Regions from separate parts of the Homo sapiens genome. Here region 2 is linked to region 1. Evidence: fine-mapped QTL for protein levels in blood plasma. Region 1 holds a variant in brackets. A gene starts in the other region. All regions are shown on their reverse strands.

Region 1 (9,628 bases):
TGTTCTCCAGCACAGATCCTGGTCCCATCTTTAGGTATGAAGAGGGCCACATGGGAGCAGAGGACAGCAGATGGCTCCACCTGCTGAGGAAGGGACAGTGTTTGTGGGTGTTCAGGGGATGGTGCTGCTGGGCCCTGCCGTGTCCCCACCCTGTTTTTCTGGATTTGATGTTGAGGAACCTCCGCTCCAGCCCCCTTTTGGCTCCCAGTGCTCCCAGGCCCTACCGTGGCAGCTAGAAGAAGTCCCGATTTCACCCCCTCCCCACAAACTCCCAAGACATGTAAGACTTCCGGCCATGCAGACAAGGAGGGTGACCTTCTTGGGGCTCTTTTTTTTCTTTTTTTCTTTTTATGGTGGCAAAAGTCATATAACATGAGATTGGCACTCCTAACACCGTTTTCTGTGTACAGTGCAGAATTGCTAACTCGGCGGTGTTTACAGCAGGTTGCTTGAAATGCTGCGTCTTGCGTGACTGGAAGTCCCTACCCATCGAACGGCAGCTGCCTCACACCTGCTGCGGCTCAGGTGGACCACGCCGAGTCAGATAAGCGTCATGCAACCCAGTTTTGCTTTTTGTGCTCCAGCTTCCTTCGTTGAGGAGAGTTTGAGTTCTCTGATCAGGACTCTGCCTGTCATTGCTGTTCTCTGACTTCAGATGAGGTCACAATCTGCCCCTGGCTTATGCAGGGAGTGAGGCGTGGTCCCCGGGTGTCCCTGTCACGTGCAGGGTGAGTGAGGCGTTGCCCCCAGGTGTCCCTGTCACGTGTAGGGTGAGTGAGGCGCGGCCCCCGGGTGTCCCTGTCCCGTGCAGCGTGATTGAGGTGTGGCCCCCGGGTGTCCCTGTCCCGTGCAGGGTGAGTGAGGCACTGTCCCCGGGTGTCCCTGTCACGTGCAGGGTGAGTGAGGCGCGGTCCCCGGGTGTCCCTGTCACGTGTAGGGTGAGTGAGGCACTGTCCCCGGGTGTCCCTCTCAGGTGTAGGGTGAGTGAGGCGCCGTCCCCGGGTGTCCCTGTCACGTGTAGGGTGAGTGAGGCGTGGTCCCCGGGTGTCCCTGTCCCGTGCAGGGTGAGTGAGGCGCTGTCCCCGGGTGTCCCTGTCACGTGCAGGGTGAGTGAGGCGCGGTCCCCGGGTGTCCCTGTCACGTGTAGGGTGAGTGAGGCACCGTCCCTGGGTGTCCCTCCCAGGTGTAGGGTGAGTGAGGCGCTGTCCCCGGGTGTCCCTCTCAGGTGTAGGGTGAGTGAGGCGCGGCCCCAGGTGTCCCTGTCACGTGTAGGGTGAGTGAGGCACCGTCCCTGGGTGTCCCTCCCAGGTATAGGGTGAGTGAGGCACTGTCCCCGGGTGTCCCTGTCACGTGCAGGGTGAGTGAGGCGCGGTCCCCAGGTGTCCCTGTCACGTGTAGGGTGAGTGAGGCACTGTCCCCGGGTGTCCCTGTCCCGTGCAGGGTGAGTGAGGCGCGGTCCCCAGGTGTCCCTGTCCCGTGCAGGGTGAGTGAGGCGCCGTCCCCGGGTGTCCCTGTCACGTGCAGGGTGAGTGAGGCACGGCCCCCGGGTGTCCCTGTCACGTGCAGGGTGAGTGAGGCGCGGCCCCCGGGTGTCCCTGTCACGTGCAGGGTGAGTGAGGCGCGGCCCCCGGGTGTCCCTGTCACGTGCAGGGTGAGTGAGGCGCGGTCCCCGGGTGTCCCTGTCACGTGCAGGGTGAGTGAGGCGCGGTCCCCGGGTGTCCCTGTCACGTGCAGGGTGAGTGAGGCGCGGTCCCCGGGTGTCCCTGTCACGTGCAGGGTGAGTGAGGCACGGTCCCCGGGTGTCCCTGTCCCGTGTAGGGTGAGTGAGGCACTGTCCCCGGGTGTCCCTGTCACGTTCAGGGTGAGTGAGGCGCGGTCCCCGGGTGTCCCTGTCACGTGTAGGGTGAGTGAGGCACCGTCCCCGGGTGTCCCTGTCACGTGCAGGGTGAGTGAGGCGCTGTCCCCGGGTGTCCCTGTCACGTGCAGGGTGATTGACGCGAGGCCCCCGGGTGTCCCTGTCACGTGCAGGGTGAGTGAGGCGCCGTCCCCGCGTGTCCCTGTCACGTGCAGGGTGAGTGAGGCGCCGTCCCCGGGTGTCCCTGTCACGTGTAGGGTGAGTGAGGTGCCGTCCCCGGGTGTCCCTGTCACGTGTAGGGTGAGTGAGGCGCCGTCCCCGGGTGTCCCTGTCACGTTCAGGGTGAGTGAGGCACGGCCCCCGGGTGTCCCTGTCACGTGTAGGGTGAGTGAGGCGCGGTCCCCGGGTGTCACTGTCACGTGTAGGGTGAGTGAGGCACTGTCCCCGGGTGTCCCTGTCACGTGTAGGGTGAGTGAGGCGCGGCCCCCGGGTGTCCCTGTCACGTGCAGGGTGAGTGAGGCGCGGCCCCCGGGTGTCCCTGTCACGTGTAGGGTGAGTGAGGCGCGGCCCCCGGGTGTCCCTGTCACGTGCAGGGTGAGTGAGGCGCGGCCCCCGGGTGTCCCTGTCACGTGCAGGGTGAGTGAGGCGCGGCCCCCGGGTGTCCCTGTCACGTGCAGGGTGAGTGAGGCACGGCCCCCGGGTGTCCCTGTCACGTGCAGGGTGAGTGAGGCGCGGCCCCCGGGTGTCCCTGTCACTTGCAGGGTGAGTGAGGCACTGTCCCCGGGTGTCCCTGTCACGTTCAGGGTGAGTGAGGCGCGGTCCCCGGGTGTCCCTGTCACGTGTAGGGTGAATGAGGCACTGTCCCCGGGTGTCCCTGTCACGTGCAGGGTGAGTGAGGCGCCGTCCCCGGGTGTCCCTGTCACGTGCAGGGTGATTGACGCGAGGCCCCCGGGTGTCCCTGTCACGTGCAGGGTGAGTGAGGCGCCGTCCCCGCGTGTCCCTGTCACGTGCAGGGTGAGTGAGGCGCCGTCCCCGGGTGTCCCTGTCACGTGTAGGGTGAGTGAGGCGCCGTCCCCGGGTGTCCCTGTCACGTGTAGGGTGAGTGAGGCGCCGTCCCCGGGTGTCCCTGTCACGTGTAGGGTGAGTGAGGCGCCGTCCCCGGGTGTCCCTGTCACGTGTAGGGTGAGTGAGGCGCCGTCCCCGGGTGTCCCTGTCACGTGCAGGGTGAGTGAGGCCCCGTCCCCGGGTGTCCCTGTCACGTGTAGGGTGAGTGAGGCACTGTCCCCGGGTGTCTCTGTCACGTGTAGGGTGAGTGAGGCGCCGTCCCTGGGTGTCCCTCTCAGGTGTAGGGTGAGTGAGGCGCCATCCCCGGGTGTCCCTGTCACGTGTAGGGTGAGTGAGGCGCCGTCCCCGGGTGTCCCTGTCACGTGTAGGGTGAGTGAGTTGCGGCCCCCGGGTGTCCCTCTCAGGTGCAGGGTGAGTGAGGCGCTGTCCCTGGGTGTCCCTGTCTCGTGTAGGGTGAGTGAGGCTCTGTCCCCAGGTGTCCTTGGCGTTTGCTCACTTGAGCTTGCTCCTGAATGTTTGCTCTTTCTATAGCCACAGCTGCGCCGGTTGCCCATTGCCTGGGTAGATGGTGCAGGCGCAGTGCTGGTCCCCAAGCCTATCTTTTCTGATGCTCGGCTCTTCTTGGTCACCTCTCCGTTCCATTTTGCTACGGGGACACGGGACTGCAGGCTCTCGCCTCCCGCGTGCCAGGCACTGCAGCCACAGCTTCAGGTCCGCTTGCCTCTGTTGGGCCTGGCTTGCTCACCACGTGCCCGCCACATGCATGCTGCCAATACTCCTCTCCCAGCTTGTCTCATGCCGAGGCTGGACTCTGGGCTGCCTGTGTCTGCTGCCACGTGTTGCTGGAGACATCCCAGAAAGGGTTCTCTGTGCCCTGAAGGAAAGCAAGTCACCCCAGCCCCCTCACTTGTCCTGTTTTCTCCCAAGCTGCCCCTCTGCTTGGCCCCCTTGGGTGGGTGGCAACGCTTGTCACCTTATTCTGGGCACCTGCCGCTCATTGCTTAGGCTGGGCTCTGCCTCCAGTCGCCCCCTCACATGGATTGACGTCCAGCCACAGGTTGGAGTGTCTCTGTCTGTCTCCTGCTCTGAGACCCACGTGGAGGGCCGGTGTCTCCGCCAGCCTTCGTCAGACTTCCCTCTTGGGTCTTAGTTTTGAATTTCACTGATTTACCTCTGACGTTTCTATCTCTCCATTGTATGCTTTTTCTTGGTTTATTCTTTCATTCCTTTTCTAGCTTCTTAGTTTAGTCATGCCTTTCCCTCTAAGTGCTGCCTTACCTGCACCCTGTGTTTTGATGTGAAGTAATCTCAACATCAGCCACTTTCAAGTGTTCTTAAAATACTTCAAAGTGTTAATACTTCTTTTAAGTATTCTTATTCTGTGATTTTTTTCTTTGTGCACGCTGTGTTTTGACGTGAAATCATTTTGATATCAGTGACTTTTAAGTATTCTTTAGCTTATTCTGTGATTTCTTTGAGCAGTGAGTTATTTGAACACTGTTTATGTTCAAGATATGTAGAGTATCAAGATACGTAGAGTATTTTAAGTTATCATTTTATTATTGATTTCTAACTCAGTTGTGTAGTGGTCTGTATAATACCAATTATTTGAAGTTTGCGGAGCCTTGCTTTGTGATCTAGTGTGTGCATGGTTTCCAGAACTGTCCATTGTAAATTTGACATCCTGTCAATAGTGGGCATGCATGTTCACTATATCCAGCTTATTAAGGTCCAGTGCAAAGCTTCTGTCTCCTTCTAGATGCATGAAATTCCAAGAAGGAGGCCATAGTCCCTCACCTGGGGGATGGGTCTGTTCATTTCTTCTCGTTTGGTAGCATTTATGTGAGGCATTGTTAGGTGCATGCACGTGGTAGAATTTTTATCTTCCTGATGAGTGAATCTTTTGGAGACTTCTATGTCTCTAGTAATCTAGTAATTCTTTTTTTAAATTGCTCTTAGTACTGCCACACTGGGCTTCTTTTGATTAGTATTTTCCTGCTGTGTCTGTTTTCTGCCTTTAATTTATATATATATATATATATTTTTTTTTTTTGAGACAGAGTCTTGGTCTGTCGCCCAGGGTGAGTGCAGTGGTGTGATCACAGGTCAGTGTAACTTTTACCTTCTGGCCTGAGCCGTCCTCTCACCTCAGCCTCCTGAATAGCTGGAACTGCAGACACGCACCGCTACACCTGGCTAATTTTTAAATTTTTTCTGGAGACAGGGTCTTGCTGTGTTGCCCAGGCTGGTCTCAAACTCTTGGACTCAAGGGATCCATCTACCTCGGCTTCCCAAAGTGCTGAATTACAGGCATGAGCCACCATGTCTGGCCTAATTTTCAACACTTTTATATTCTTATAGTGTGGGTATGTCCTGTTAACAGCATGTAGGTGAATTTCCAATCCAGTCTGACAGTCGTTGTTTAACTGGATAACCTGATTTATTTTCATTTTTTTGTCACTAGAGACCCG[C/T]CTGGTGCACTCTGATTCTCCACTTGCCTGTTGCATGTCCTCGTTCCCTTGTTTCTCACCACCTCTTGGGTTGCCATGTGCGTTTCCTGCCGAGTGTGTGTTGATCCTCTCGTTGCCTCCTGGTCACTGGGCATTTGCTTTTATTTCTCTTTGCTTAGTGTTACCCCCTGATCTTTTTATTGTCGTTGTTTGCTTTTGTTTATTGAGACAGTCTCACTCTGTCACCCAGGCTGGAGTGTAATGGCACAATCTCGGCTCACTGCAACCTCTGCCTCCTCGGTTCAAGCAGTTCTCATTCCTCAACCTCATGAGTAGCTGGGATTACAGGCGCCCACCACCACGCCTGGCTAATTTTTGTATTTTTAGTAGAGATAGGCTTTCACCATGTTGGCCAGGCTGGTCTCAAACTCCTGACCTCAAGTGATCTGCCCGCCTTGGCCTCCCACAGTGCTGGGATTACAGGTGCAAGCCACCGTGCCCGGCATACCTTGATCTTTTAAAATGAAGTCTGAAACATTGCTACCCTTGTCCTGAGCAATAAGACCCTTAGTGTATTTTAGCTCTGGCCACCCCCCAGCCTGTGTGCTGTTTTCCCTGCTGACTTAGTTCTATCTCAGGCATCTTGACACCCCCACAAGCTAAGCATTATTAATATTGTTTTCCGTGTTGAGTGTTTCTGTAGCTTTGCCCCCGCCCTGCTTTTCCTCCTTTGTTCCCCGTCTGTCTTCTGTCTCAGGCCCGCCGTCTGGGGTCCCCTTCCTTGTCCTTTGCGTGGTTCTTCTGTCTTGTTATTGCTGGTAAACCCCAGCTTTACCTGTGCTGGCCTCCATGGCATCTAGCGACGTCCGGGGACCTCTGCTTATGATGCACAGATGAAGATGTGGAGACTCACGAGGAGGGCGGTCATCTTGGCCCGTGAGTGTCTGGAGCACCACGTGGCCAGCGTTCCTTAGCCAGTGAGTGACAGCAACGTCCGCTCGGCCTGGGTTCAGCCTGGAAAACCCCAGGCATGTCGGGGTCTGGTGGCTCCGCGGTGTCGAGTTTGAAATCGCGCAAACCTGCGGTGTGGCGCCAGCTCTGACGGTGCTGCCTGGCGGGGGAGTGTCTGCTTCCTCCCTTCTGCTTGGGAACCAGGACAAAGGATGAGGCTCCGAGCCGTTGTCGCCCAACAGGAGCATGACGTGAGCCATGTGGATAATTTTAAAATTTCTAGGCTGGGCGCGGTGGCTCACGCCTGTAATCCCAGCACTTTGGGAGGCCAAGGCGGGTGGATCACGAGGTCAGGAGGTCGAGACCATCCTGGCCAACATGATGAAACCCCATCTGTACTAAAAACACAAAAATTAGCTGGGCGTGGTGGCGGGTGCCTGTAATCCCAGCTACTCGGGAGGCTGAGGCAGGAGAATTGCTTGAACCTGGGAGTTGGAAGTTGCAGTGAGCCGACATTGCACCACTGCACTCCAGCCTGGCAACACAGCGAGACTCTGTCTCAAAAAAAAAAAAAAAAAAAAAAATTCTAGTAGCCACATTAAAAAAGTAAAAAAGAAAAGGTGAAATTAATGTAATAATAGATTTTACTGAAGCCCAGCATGTCCACACCTCATCATTTTAGGGTGTTATTGGTGGGAGCATCACTCACAGGACATTTGACATTTTTTGAGCTTTGTCTGCGGGATCCCGTGTGTAGGTCCCGTGCGTGGCCATCTCGGCCTGGACCTGCTGGGCTTCCCATGGCCATGGCTGTTGTACCAGATGGTGCAGGTCCGGGATGAGGTCGCCAGGCCCTCAGTGAGCTGGATGTGCAGTGTCCGGATGGTGCACGTCTGGGATGAGGTCGCCAGGCCCTGCTGTGAGCTGGATGTGTGGTGTCTGGATGGTGCAGGTCAGGGGTGAGGTCTCCAGGCCCTCGGTGAGCTGGAGGTATGGAGTCCGGATGATGCAGGTCCGGGGTGAGGTCGCCAGGCCCTGCTGTGAGCTGGATGTGTGGTGTCTGGATGGTGCAGGTCAGGGGTGAGGTCTCCAGGCCCTCGGTGAGCTGGAGGTATGGAGTCCGGATGATGCAGGTCCGGGGTGAGGTCGCCAGGCCCTGCTGTGAGCTGGATGTGTGGTGTCTGGATGGTGCAGGTCTGGGGTGAGGTCACCAGGCCCTGCGGTGAGCTGGGTGTGCGGTGTCTGGATGGTGCAGGTCTGGAGTGAGGTCGCCAGACGGTGCCAGACCGTGCGGTGAGCTGGATATGCGGTGTCCGGATGGTGCAGGTCTGGGGTGAGGTTGCCAGGCCCTGCTGTGAGTTGGATGTGGGGTGTCCGGATGCTGCAGGTCCGGTGTGAGGTCACCAGGCCCTGCTGTGAGCTGGATGTGTGGTGTCTGGATGGTGCAGGTCTGGGGTGAGGTCGCCAGGCCCTGCTGTGAGCTGGATGTGTGGTGTCTGGATGGTGCAGGTCTGGAGTGAGGTCGCCAGGCCCTCGGTGAGCTGGATGTGCAGTGTCCAGATGGTGCAGGTCCGGGGTGAGGTCGCCAGACCCTGCGGTGAGCTGGATGTGCGGTGTCTGGATGGTGCAGGTCTGGAGTGAGGTCGCCAGGCCCTCGGTGAGCTGGATGTATGGAGTCCGGATGGTGCCGGTCCGGGGTGAGGTCGCCAGACCCTGCTGTGAGCTGGATATGCGGTGTCCGGATGGTGCAGGTCAGGGGTGAGGTCTCCAGGCCCTCGGTGAGCTGGAGGTATGGAGTCCGGATGATGCAGGTCCGGGGTGAGGTCGCCAGGCCCTGCTGTGAGCTGGATGTGCGGCGTCTGGATGGTGCAGGTCTGGGGTGTGGTCGCCAGGCCCTCGGTGAGCTGGAGGTATGGAGTCCGGATGATGCAGGTCCGGGGTGAGGTCGCCAGGCCCTGCTGTGAGCTGGATGTGCGGCGTCTGGATGGTGCAGGTCTGGGGTGTGGTCGCCAGGCCCTCGGTGAGCTGGAGGTATGGAGTCCGGATGATGCAGGTCCGGGGTGAGGTTGCCAGGCCCTGCTGTGAGCTGGATGTGCTGTATCCGGATGGTGCAGGTCCGGGGTGAGGTCGCCAGGCCCTGCTGTGAGCTGGATGTGCTGTATCCGGATGGTGCAGGTCTGGGGTGAGGTCACCAGGCCCTGCGGTGAGCTGGTTGTGCAGTGTCCGGTTGCTGCAGGTCCGGGGTGAGTTCGCCAGGCCCTCGGTGAGCTGGATGTGCGGTGTCCCCGTGTCCGGATGGTGCAGGTCCAGGGTGAGGTCGCTAGGCCCTTGGTGGGCTGGATGTGCCGTGTCCGGATGGTGCAGGTCTGGGGTGAGGTCGCCAGGCCTTTGGTGAGCTGGATGTGCGGTGTCTGCATGGTGCATGTCTGGGGTGAGGTCGCCAGGCCCTTGGTGGGCTGGATGTGTGGTGTCCGGATGGTGCAGGTCCGGCGTGAGGTCGCCAGGCCCTGCTGTGAGCTGGATGTGCGGTGTCTGGATGGTGCAGGTCCGGGGTGAGGTAGCCAAGGCCTTCGGTGAGCTGGATGTGGGGTGTCCGGATGGTGCAGGTCCGGGGTGAGGTCGCCAGGCCCTGCGGTTAGCTGGATATGCGGTGTCCGGATGGTGCAGGTCCGGGGTGAGGTCACCAGGCCCTGCGGTTAGCTGGATGTGCGGTGTCTGGATGGTGCAGGTCCGGGGTGAGGTCGCCAGGCCCTGCTGTGAGCTGGATGTGCTGTATCCAGATGGTGCAGGTCCGGGGTGAGGTCGCCAGGCCCTGCAGTGAGCTGGATGTGCTGTATCCGGATGGTGCAGGTCTGGCGTGAGGTCGCCAGGCCCTGCGGTTAGCTGGATATGCGGTGTCGGATGGTGCAGGTCCGGGGTGAGGTCACCAGGCCCTGCGGTTAGCTGGATGTGTGGTGTCCGGATGGTGCAGGTCTGGGGTGAGGTCGCCAGGCCCTGCTGTGAGCTGGATGTGCTGTATCCGGATGGTGCAGGTCCGGGGTGAGGTCGCCAGGCCCTGCGGTGAGCTGGATGTGCTGTATCCGGATGGTGCAGGTCTGGCGTGAGGTCGCCAGGCCCTGCGGTGAGCTGGATGTGCAGTGTACGGATGGTGCAGGTCCGGAGTGAGGTCGCCAGGCCCTGCGGTGGGCTGTATGTGTGTTGTCTGGATGGTGCAGGTCCGGGGTGAGTTCGCCAGGCCCTGCGGTGAGCTGGATGTGTGGTGTCTGGATGCTGCAGGTCCGGGGTGAGTTCGCCAGGCCCTCGGTGA
Region 2 (12,473 bases), not on the chromosome of region 1:
GAGATTTTGGGCTGAGACAATGGGCTTTTCTAAATATACAATCATGTCATCTGCAAACCAGTACAATTTGACTTCCTCTTTTCCTAATTGAATACCTTTTATTTCTTTCTCCTGCCTGATTGCCCTGGCCAGAACTTCCAACACTATGTTAAATAGGAGTGGTGAGAGAGGGCATCCCTGTCTTGTGCCAGTTTTCAAAGGGAATGCTTCCAGTTTTTGCCCATTCAGTATGATATTGGCTGTGGGTTTGTCATAGATAGCTCTTATTATTTTGAGGTACGTCCCATCAATACCTAGTTTATTGAGAGTTTTTAGCATGAAGGGCTGTTGAATTTTGTCAAAGGCCTTTTCTGCATCTATTGAGATAATCATGTGGTTTTTGTCTTTGGTTCTGTTTCTATGATGGATTACGTTTATCGATTTGTGTATGTTGGACCAGCCTTGCATCCCAGGGATGAGGCCAACTTGATCATGGTGGATAAGCTTTTTGATGTGCTGCTGGATTTGGTGTGCCAGTATTTTATAGAGAATTTTTGCATCGATGTTCATCAGGGATATTGGTCTAAAATTCTCTTTTTTTGTTGTGTCTCTGCCAGGCTTTGGTATCAGGATGATGCTGGCCTCCTGAAATGAGTTAGGGAGGATTCTCTCTTTTTCTATTGATTGGAATAGTTCCAGGAGGAATGGTACCAGCTCCTCTTTGTACCTCTGGTAGAATGTGACTGTGAATCTGTCTGGTCCTGGACTTTTTTCGGTTGGTAGGCTATTAATTATTGCCTCAATTTTAGAGCCTGTTATTGGTCTATTCATGGATTCAACTTCTTTCTGGTTTAGTCTTGGGAGGGTGTATGTGTCCAGGAATTTATCCATTTCTTCTAGATTTTCTAGTTTATTTGCATAGAGGTGTTTATAGTATTCTCTGATGGTAGTTTGTATTTCTGTGGGCTCAGTGGTGATATCCCCTTTATCATTTTTTATTGAGTCTATTTGATTCTTCTCTCTTTTCTTCTTTATTAGTCTTGCTAGCTGTCTATCAATTTTGTTGATCTTTTCAAAAAACCAGCTCCTGGATTCATTGATTTTTTGAAGGGTTTTGTTGTGTCTCTATCTCCTTCAGTTCTGCTCTGATCTTAGTTATTTCTTGCCTTCTGCTAGCTTTTGAATGTGTTTGCTCTTGCTTCTCTAGTTCTTCTAATTGTGATGTTAGGGTGTCGGTTTTAGATCTTTCCTGCTTTCTCTTGTGGGCATTTAGTGCTATAAATTTCCCTCTACACATTGCTTTAAATGTGTCCCAGAGATTCCGGTATGTTGTGTCTTTGTTCTCCTTGGTTTCAAAGAACATCTTTATTTCTGCCTTCATTTCGTTGTGTACCCAGTAGTCATTCAGGAGCAGGTCGTTCAGTTTCCATGTAGTTGAGCGAGTTTCTTAATCCTGAGTTCTAGTTTGCCCTGTGGTCTGAGAGACAGTTTGTTATAATTTCTGTTCTTTTACATTTGCTAAAGAGTGCTTTACTTCCAACTATGTGGTCAATTTTGGAATAAGTGCGATGTGGTGCTGAGAAGAATGTATATTCTGTTTATTTGAGGCGGAGAGTTCTGTAGATGTCTATTAGTTCTGCTTGGTGCAGAGCTGAGTTCAATTCCTGGATATCCTTGTTAACTTTCTGTCTCATTGATCTGTCTAATGTTGACAGTGGGGTGTTAAAGTCTCCCATTATTATTGTGTGGGAGTCTAAGTCTCTTTGTAGGTCTCTAAGGGCTTGCTTTATGAATCTGGGTGCTCCTGTTTTTGGGTGCATATATATTTATGATAGTTAGCTCTTCTTGTTGAATTGATCGCTTTACCATTATGTAATGGCCTTCTTTGTCTCTTTTGATCTTTGTTGGTTTAAAGTCTGTTTTATCAGAGACTAGGATTGCAACCCTTGCTTTTTTCTGTTTTCCATTTGATTGGTAGATCTTCCTCCATCCCTTTATTTTGAGCCTATGTGTGTCTCTGCAGGTAAATGGATCTCCTGAACACAGCACAATGATGGGTCTTGACTCTTTATCCAATTTGCCAGTCTGTGTCTTTTAATTGGAGCATTTAGCCCATTTACATTTAAGGTTAATACTGTTATGTGTGAATTTGATCCTGTCATTATGATGTTAGCTGGTTATTTTGCTCATTAGTTGATGCAGTTTCTTCCTAGCATTAACGGTCTTTACAACTTGGCATGTTTTTGCAGTGGCTGGTCCTGGTTGTTCCTTTCCATGTTTACGGCTTCCTTCAGGAGCTCTTGTAAGGCAGGCCTGGTGGTGACAAAATCTTTCAGCATTTGTTTGTCTGTAAAGGATTTTATTTCTCCTTCACTTATGAAGCTTAGTTTGGCTGGATATGAAATTCAGGGTTGATATGAAATTCTTTTCTTTAAGAATGTTGAATATTGGCCCCCACTCTCTTCTGGCTTGTAGAGTTTCTGCCGAGAGATCCGCTGTTAGTCTGATGGGCTTCCCTTTGTGGGTAACCTGACCTTTCTCTCTGGCTGCCCTTAACATTTTTTCCTTCATTTCAACTTTGATGAATCTGAAAATTATGTGTCTTAGAGTTGCTCTTCTTGACGATTATCTTTGTGGTATTCTCTGTATTTCCTGAATTTGAATGTTGGCCTGCCTTGCTATGTTGGGGAAGTTCTGGATAATATCCTGAAGAGTGTTTTCCAACTTGGTTCCATTCTTCCCATCACTTTCAGGTACACCAGTCAGACATAGATTTGGTCTTTTCACATAGTCCCACATTTCTTGGAGGCTTCATTCATTTCTTTTTACTCTTTTTTCTCTAAACTTCTCTTCTGGCTTCATTTCATTCATTTGATCTTCAATCCCTGACACCCTTTCTTCCACTTGATCAAATTGGCTACTGAATCTTGTGCATGCATCATGTAGTTCTCGTGCCATGGTTTTCAGCTCCATCAGGTCGTTTAAGGTCTTCTCTACACTGTTTATTCTAGTTAGCCATTTGTCTAATCTTTTTTCAAGGTTTTTAGCTTCTTTGCGATGGGTTCGAACTCCTCCTTTAGCTCGGAGAAGTTTGTTATTACCAATCGCCTGAAGCCATCTTCTCTCAACTCATCAAAGTCATTCTCCATGCAGCTTTGTTCTGTTGCTGGTGAGGAGCTGCATTCCTTTTGAGGAGAAGAGGCACTCTGATTTTTAGAATTTTTGGCTTTTCTGCTCTGGTTTCTCCCCATCTTTGTGATTTTATCTACCATTGGTCTTTGATGATGGTGACACACAGATGGTGTTTTGGTTTGGATGTCCTTTCTGTTTGTTCGTTTTCCTTCTTACAGTCAGGACCCTCAGCTGCAGGTCTGCTGGAGGCTGCTGGAGGTGCACTCCAGTCCCTGTTTGCCTGGGTATCACCAGTGGAGACTGCAGAACAGCAAATATTGCAGTACGGCAAATGTTGCTGCCTGATCCTTCCTCTGGAAGCTTCATCTCAGAGGGACACCTGGCTGTATGAGGTGTCAGTCAGCTCCTACTGGGAGGTGTCTCCCAGTTAGGCTACTCGGGCTCAGGGACCCACTAGAGGAGGCAGTCTGTCTGTTCTCAGATCTCAAACTCCATGCTCAGAGAACCACTACTCTCTCCCACGCTGTCAGACAGGGATGTTTAAGTCTGCAGAAGTTTCTTCTGCATTTTGTTCAGCTATGCCCTGCCCTCAGAGGTGGAGTCGACAGAGGCAGGCAGGCCTCCTTGAGCTGCAGTGGGCTCCACCCAGTTTGAGCTTCCTGGCAGCTTTGTTTACCTGCTCAAGCCTCAGCAATGGTGGATGCCCCTCCCGTAGCCTCGCTGCCACCTTGCAGTTTGATCTCAGACTGATGTGCTAGCAGTGAGCAAGGCTCTGTGGGCATGGGACCCTCCGAGCCAGGCATGGGATATAATCTCCTGGTGTGCCATTTGCTAAGACCATTGGAAAAGTGCAGTATTAGGGTGGGAGTGTCCTGATTTTCCAGGTACCGTCTGTCATAGCTTCCCTTGGCTAGGAAAGGGAATTCCCCAATCCCTTGCGCTTCCTTGGTGAGGCAATGCCCCACCCTGCACCATGGGCTGTCCCCACTGTCTGCCAAGCCCCAGTGAGATGAACCCAGTACCTCAGTTGGAAATGCAGAAATCACCAATCTTCTGTGTCGCTCACGCTGGGAGCTATAGACTGGAGCTGTTCCTATTTGGCCATCTTGGAACCCAATCCACCTAAGGTCTTGCTCTAAGGTTCTATGCCTGAAAATCTTTGAAAGAGGTGAAGGACCTCTTCAAGGAGAAATACAAACCACTGCTCAATGAAATAAAAGAGGACACAAATAAATGGAAGATCATTCTATGCTTACGGATAGGAAGAATCAGTATTGTGAATATGGCCATACTGCCCAAGGTAATTTATAGATTCAATGCCATCCCCATCAAGCTACCAATGACTTTCTTCACAGAATTGGAAAAAACTACTTTAAAGTTCATATGGAACCAAAAAAGGTCCCACATTGCCAAGACAAACCTAAGTCAAAAGAACAAAGCTGGAGGCATCACGCTACCTGACTTCAAACTATACTCCAAGGCAACAGCAACCAAAACAACATGGTACTGGTACCAAAACAGAGATATAGACCAATGGAACAGAACAGAGCCCCCGGAAATAATACCACATATCTACAACCATCTGATCTTTGACAAATCTGACAAAAACGAGAAATGGGGAAAGGATTCCCTATTTAATAAATGGTGCTGGGAAAACTGGCTAGCCATATATAGAAAGCTGAAACTGGATCCCTTCCTTACACCTTATAAAAAATTAATTCAAGATGGATTAAAAACTTAAATGTTAGATCTAAAACCATAAAAACCCTAGAAGAAAACCTAGGCAATACCATTCAGGCAACAGGCATGGGAAGGACTTCATGACTAAAACACCAATAACAATGGCAACAAAAGCCAAAATTGACCAATGGGATCTAACTAAATTAAAGAGCTTCTGCACAGCAAAAGAAACTACCATCAGAGTGAACAGACAACCTACAGAATGGGAGAAAATTTTTACAATCTACCCATCTGACAAACGGCTAATATCCAGAATCTACAAAGAACTTACATAAATTTACAAGAAAAAATCAACCAACCCCATCAAAAAATGGGCAAAGGATATGAACAGACACTTCTCAAAAGAAAACATTTATGCAGGCAACAGACACATGAAAAAATGCTCATCATCACTGGCCATCAGAGAAATGCAAATCTAAACCACAATGAGATACCATCTCACACCAGTTAGAATGACAGTCATTAAAAAGTCAGGAAAAAACAGGTGCTGGAGAGGATGTGGAGAAATAGGAACACTTTTACACTGTTGGTGGGACTCTAAACTAGTTCAACCATTGTGGAAGACAGTGTGGCGATTCCTCGAGGGACTAGAACTAGAATTTGACCCAGCCATCTCATTACTGGGTATATACCCAAAGGATTATAAATCACGCTGCTATAAAGACACATGCACACATATGTTTATTGTGGCACTATTCACAATAGCAAAGACTCGTGAACCATCCCAAATGTCTATCAATGATAGACTGGATTAAGAATATATGGCACATATGCACCATGGAATAGTATGCAGCCATAAAAAAGGATGAGTTCATGTCCTTTGTAGGGACATGGATGAAGCTGGAAACCATCATTCTGAGCAAACTATTGCAAGGACAGAAAACCAAACACCGCATGTTCTCACTCATAGGTTGGAATTGAACAATGAGAATATTTGGACACAGGGAGGGGAACACCACACACCGGGGCCTGTCGTGGGGTGGGGGGAGGGGGGAGGGATAGCATTAGGAGATATACCTAATGTAAATGACAAGTTAACGGGTGCAGCACACCAACATGGCACATGTATACATATGTAACAAACCTGTACATTGTGAACTTAAAGTATAATAATAATAAAAAAAGGTAAAAAAAAAAAAGTAGACACATACTATAATCACCTTGAAAAAAAAAGAAAGTCTTTCAAAGAGATAAAAAATTCCATATACTCCACTTCCTACAATTCTGGCAGTTTCCAAATACTTTTACTTATGTGAAAATGCTATCATATCCAAGAGTGCCTTTAGAGCTAAGCTAACAGTAGGCTACTGATCTTTAGCACATTGCTTTTTCTGTTGTGTTATTCAGGGGGCTTTCTCACATTTATGTTTCCATTTTTCACATTTCACAACTTTCTTTGGAGCACAGATATTTCAGGAAGATTTTAGAGCCTTTGAATAGCATTATGGACTTTTTTGCATTAATTTTTACTTTTACAAAATTGTGCTAAATATTATTTCTGTTAATTAGTGAGTTTTGTTGGGGGCCCCTTAAATTGGAACCCCAGGCTATGCCTCATTTGCTTCACTCTGGTCCTGGCCCTGAGAGAGGAACACAAAAGGGATGGTTAGAAAAACAAGAACAAATGAGCCTCCCAGAATTTTCTCAAACAACAGGCCAGTTAATTAAGGAAAGTAGATATTACATAGCTAGGTATAATGAACATGCAGTCAGTGGATTGTCTCAGTAATTTATGGAGATAACCACCAACAAAAAGTGTATGTGGGTGGGGACAAAAGAGAGACAACAAAGTACTGCAGGCAGAAAGCTTCCTTTTGCTGATTTTGCCTCACAGAATTGAGAGTTTGTTCTTACACACAAGTTTAATGCCACCTTCCTCTGTCTGCCATGGACCAACAAGCAATATATGCTGAGTTAAACTTACCCACAGACTCAGGCCCAGAAAGTTCTTCACCTTCATCTCTTCCTCGGGGTAAGTGGCTTTAATTTTCCTTTCGGCATTTGTATGTCTTCCAGAATTAGATCTTCCTGTTACATTTATGGCTTTAAATCATTGCTTTAAAGATGAGCAGTAGTTTTATATTAATGTTTAACGGGTGTTGCATGGCTTGCCTGTAGATAATCACAACTTTGGGAAAAAAAATTTAAACCTCATACATTTATTTTTTTCAATCAAGTTAGCATGAAAAGCAAACATCACTTGTCTTACTGAGCCTTGGTTAAAAGACTCTGAACACTTTAGGCTACCCTGGGCACACTGCCTATTGGTTACCCCTGCTCTACAGGGATGGAAAGAAGGAAGAAAGAAAGAAAGAAAGAAAAGAAAGAAAGAAAGAAAGAAAGAAAGAAAGAAAGAAAGAAAGAAAGAAAGGAAGAAAGAAAGAAAGAAAGGAAAGAAAGAGAAAGAAAAGAAGAAAGAAAGAAAGGAGAGAAAGAAAAAGAAAGAGAGAGAAAGGAAAGGAAAGAAAGAAAAAGAGAAGGAGGAAGGAAGGAAGGATGGAAGGAAGGAAGGAAAAATATTTTACATGTATGAACTAAGGAATATTTAAGACACATTGCAAACTTGCTGTAATAACAACCTACGTTATTCCAAATTCCTCTACAAAATATCAATACTATGATTAAGTCCCAGTGCATTTTCATCCATAATATTCCTTTCAGAATACAACGTGTAGGCCAGTTGCAGTGGCTCATGCCTGTAATCCCAACACTTTGGTAGGCTAAGGTGATTTGCTTGAGTCCAGGAGTTTAAGGCCAGCCTGGGCAATGTGGCAAAACCTCATCTCTACAAACAATACAAAAAAATAGCCAAGTGTGGGGCACGTGCCTGTGGTCCTAGCTACTCGGGAGGCTGAGGTGAGAGGATTGCTTGAGCCCAAGAGATCAAGGCTGCAGTGAGCTGTAATTGTGCCACTGTACTCCAGCCTGGGTGACACAGCAAGACTATCTCAAAAAAAAAAAAAAAATATATATATATATATATATATATATACTTTTTATACATATATTTTATATATTTTATATATATATATATACTTTTTATACATATATTTTATATATTTTATATATATATATATAAAGTGTAGGCTTAATGAGTAACATACTTCACTCTCTCAAGAGAGGGGAACACTTTCTGGAAAAAAAATCATATTCAAGATCAAAGATTTGAATATCATTACTACCTGATAGTTTCTAGTTTGAAAAGTATCACAGCTTAGAAAGAGACAAGCCACAAAAATACTCGAGCATATCAGTAACGAACCTACTTACCATTTGTTGAAACTGGCACTTTCCTGTGTCTCTGAAGAGTTAGCATTCTGAGTGAAAGAAGCGGGGAACACCAATGTGAGGTAACACATGATGGATAGCATGGCCTGTGGATGGATGGGAAGAAACTAGAAACTGAGGCAGAAAATCAGCATGAAATTATTATGACACATTATTATTTTCTGATATCTAACTGAATTTACTATCATTGATAATATTACAATTGTTTACCAATCTGATATTCATTCCATGTCATGCCAAGCATTTGACTTGTGCTGTTTTAAGACTGTTTAAGTTTTAAACTATTGAATTCTCAAAGTTTTAAGTCAAGAAGAAAGTCTTAGAGCCGTCAATTAAGTTTCAGTATAATTTTCACATAAGAGTAGAGGAAATCAGAGGGTTCTAATAACTATAGGGAGGATTTGGTTGAGTAACATTTTTTTTTAAAGAAAAGAGTAAGTCTTTCTTTTCCTCTATTCATATCTAGCAAAAGGTGGAAAGTGGGCTTTTGTCAGAAAATGAATATAGAGGTAGTGAGACTCTTCCCAAATGTTGCTATGATCCCAAACCAATGGATGCAGAAATTTTTTCTACTTGGATTGTAATAATTATCCTATAAAATGTCATTCTGAGAGTAAACCTGAAGAAAAAATAAGAGTAGAATAAAGCCAGAGCAAAATATGTGACTATAGAACACTGGTCTGATATTGAATGACAGTAAAACCACTATTGGTCTCTGGCTAAACTGCTGAGGCTGTGGTCACTCTGTAGCAAGCACGGTGATTGTGTCTAAGGCAGTCAACAAAACCAGAAGGAGAGATGTGAGTGATAACCGATCTTGCTTATGGCCAAATGGCCAAGGGTTTGGTCTGTTAGAAAAGTGGATAAGGTGTTTGCAAAAATGCCCCTAGAGTTTATTCATTCATTAAAAAATAAGCTCCTACTCTGCACCAGGCATGCTGTGAATACAGCAGTGAACAAAATAGAGAAAATTATTTTCCTTCATAGAGTTTATAGTAAAATAGAGGCACACTTGTGGAAGACAGTATGGCGATTCCTTAAGGATCTAGAGCTAGAAATACCATTTGACCCAGTGATCCCACTACTGGGTATATACTCAAAGGATAATAAATCATGCTGCTATAAAGACACATGCACACGTATGTTTATTGCGGCAGCATTCACAATAGCAAAGACTTGGAACCAACCCAAATGTCCATCATTGATAGACTGGATTGAGAAAATGTGGCACATATACACCATGGAATACTGTGCAGCCATAAAAAAGGATGATTTCATGTCCTTTGTAGGGACATGGATGAGGCTGGAAACCATCATTCTGAGCAAACTATCACAAGGACAGAAAGCCAAACACCGCATATTCTCACTCATAGTGGGAATTGAACAATGAGAACACATGGACACAGGGCAGGGAACATCACACACCAGGGCCTGTTGTGGGGTGGGGGTAGGGAGAAGGGATAGCACTAGGAGAAATACCTAATGTAAATGACGAGTTAACGGGTGCAACAAACCAACATGGCACATGTATACATATGTAACAAACCTGCACATTGTGCCCATGTACCCTAGAACTTAAAGTATAATAAAAAATAAAAATTAAAAAAATGGAGGCACACCATCAATAAAATAAACAAATAACTAAGTCAGTATAAAAGATGAGACGGTGTTAATGTTATTGAGAAAGATTTGAATATAGGATTTAACTTTCGGGGAGGGTAGCATATCAAACAGAATAATCAAGGAAGGCCTCCCTGAGAAGATGACATTGAGTCAAAACCTGACAGAAGTGAGGGACAAAGACATAAGCCCCTGAGAGAGAAGCCTTCTAGGAAGGTGACCAACAAGTGCAAACACATCGAAATGAAAACACGCCTGTGGTATTGTAGGAGGCATCTGCGTGGAGAGTGAGCGTATGGAGGCCAGATGGGGTGAGGGCAAAATGTGAAACCACTATTGGACTCTGGCTAAACTGTTGAGGCTATGGTCACTCTGTAGCATGGTGATTGTGTCTAAGGCAGTCAACAAAACCAGAGAGATGTGAGTGATAACATCCAACAGAAGTGGGCGCCAGCTTAAATAGGGACATATGAGCCATTCTACAGACTCAGATTTGCCTGATGAAAAGCCATTGGAAGGTTTAGAATAATGAAATGAGATGATTTCACATACTTTTTAAACTCAAATGGAGAACAGCCATAGGTAGGTATTTCCAGATAGCTAACGTCCGCCGGACCCCTGTAGTGATTCATTGTAACTTCATTAATTCTAATGTCACGTGGTGCCACAGAAACACAGTACAGGAGTACATTCCTCCCAGACACAGTACACTCCACTCAACTCCTTACATTTTAGCATGAATGAATAACGATTTTTAAAAGTCACCAAGTTGCCTTTTACCTATAGTTAAAAAAAAAAAACAACTTTTAGAAAAAAAGAACTGCTGTTCATTGAACAGTTACCATGTGCCAGACACTGTGCCCAGCATTTAGAAGAATTGTTTCATATAATCCTCTCCAAAATATTATGACATAGATAATATTCCACATTTCACAGATGAGGAAATCTGTGGGTTATGAAGGTTGAACGTATTTTCCAAAATAACATGTTCACATTCAGATTTGCTAGATCGGAAAGACTGTTCTTAATCAATGTTAGCCTTTAGTAATGAAAATTACTAAATTCATGTTAGTAATAGAATTAGGCTGGGTGCGGTGGCTCACGTATGTAATCCCAGCACTTTGGGAGGCTGAGGCGGGTGGATCACCTGAGGTTGGGAGTTCGAGACCAGCCTGACCAACATGGAGAAACCCGTCTCTACTAAAAAAAAAAAAAAAAAATACAAAATTAGCCGGGCATGGTGGCGCATGCCTGTAATCCCAGCTACTCGGGAGGTTGAGGCAAGAGAATTGCTTGAACCTGGGAGGCGGAGGTTGCGGTGAGCTGAGATTGCACCATGAGCCTGGGCAACAAGAGTGAAACTCCGTCTCAAAAATAAATAAATAAATAAATAGAATTAAGTTAACACTTAAAATAGTGACTATACAGAGCTTTCTCCACTAGACAAACAAACTTAGAGTTTCAAGGAAGAAAACGGTGGGGAAGAGAAGAGACAGAAAGGTGAAATAACGTACATATATAAAACTGGAAGGAAAGCCATGCCAGTGCTGTCTTGGGCTTATTGACTGCATGTAGACATTCTTGTATCACACCAGCTCTCATTAGAAGTTCTAGGCCAATATTACCAAGCTTGGTTTCCTCACATTCAGATATATCCCTGGGGCCTTGGAGTCTCCTCTAGGTATCTACTCCTCCCTGCCCCCCTCCACTGATACAGCATGTCCTAAATAGTACCAGACGATAATCCATATGTTACAACCCTGACCCCAGTGTATTATGGTTCCTCCCATAATCTTTGATCACATCTAACGCTACTAAATTCTATCTCCTCAGGGCCGTTTTAGAGAGAGCTGATTCACTTATATCAGTGTGAGCATCCTAATGTGAGAGATTATCAGGTCTGCAAACTGGACTGCACAACTTAATCCTCAAGGATACTGTACCATTAAAAGTAGAAATGGCTTCATGGCCGTTCTGAAACATATAAAGAGACTAAAGGATAATATTATAGTATATCTGATGCTAAATTTTTTAACATGTAACTCATAGCAAGTAATCACTTACATGGAATAATATTAGAAAAAATAAAAAGGAATAGACAATACAAATAAATCAATAGCTTCAGATAAATTAGAAAGCCTTTATTCATAAAAGCTCCTAGCTCTAATAATAGAATTTATAAAGTAATTTATAATTATAATATATCTAATATGTTAAAAACCAAATGAGAGCAGAGGGAGACTTACAATTAAATCAGAGATAGGGGAGCTATTTAGGCACAACTTCTAGCAGTGTAACTGAGCAATATACTACCAGAATAATTCCTTATCAGAGTTGATTTAATTTTGGAAGCTATATCCCAGTGTTTCTCCAAAATATTTTTATAAATCTCTCTTTATTTTTTTTCTATTAATTCATGTTTTCAAAGATACAGAGCAAAATACATTGATAAAGTTGCGATTAATTTATAACATTTCATCAATATAATCATAACTTTTGAAGAACATGGGAGATTCATTATATAGTAATTGATGTGATTACAGAGAAAAGCAGAGATATCTGACACTTGGTTTAGACTATGCGATGTTGTAGACATAAGCGCATGTTATGTTATACTAGTGATAATATTGAAAAAGGTATGCAGTCACAAAACCTTATCCCTTGATGGCTTGGGATCCCAAGTTGGCTTAGACCCAACTTGGAGATGATTGTTC

Direction of the effects. Positions count from the first base shown, and alleles are read on the strand shown. Strength reflects both the effect of a copy and how common the allele is.
As copies of C replace T in region 1, the plasma level of the protein whose gene starts at base 6,662 in region 2 goes up (weak association).

What was found. PIP is the chance, under the fine-mapping model, that this variant and not a neighbour inherited with it causes the effect. The UK Biobank Pharma Proteomics Project read protein levels with antibody pairs (Olink). The fine-mapping took linkage between variants from a reference panel, not from the people measured, so its PIPs are less certain.
Region 2: it holds the start of KLRB1, and the variant in region 1 is fine-mapped to the plasma level of the KLRB1 protein (UK Biobank, PIP above 0.99).

Annotation. Positions count from the first base shown.
Region 1 is chr5:1,282,843-1,292,470 of GRCh38, reverse strand. The region is part of intron 2 of TERT (telomerase reverse transcriptase); the gene reads left to right. Among named protein-coding and RNA genes, the nearest start is that of TERT, 7.4 kb to the left of the region's middle. RefSeq lists enhancers at 475-1,225, 1,226-1,977, 4,751-5,997. The variant C/T (reference allele first, on the strand shown) is at 5,392.
Region 2 is chr12:9,602,105-9,614,577 of GRCh38, reverse strand. KLRB1 (killer cell lectin like receptor B1) reads left to right here and starts at 6,662. Exons shown (of 6, transcript NM_002258.3): 1 at 6,662-6,823. The coding sequence starts at 6,739.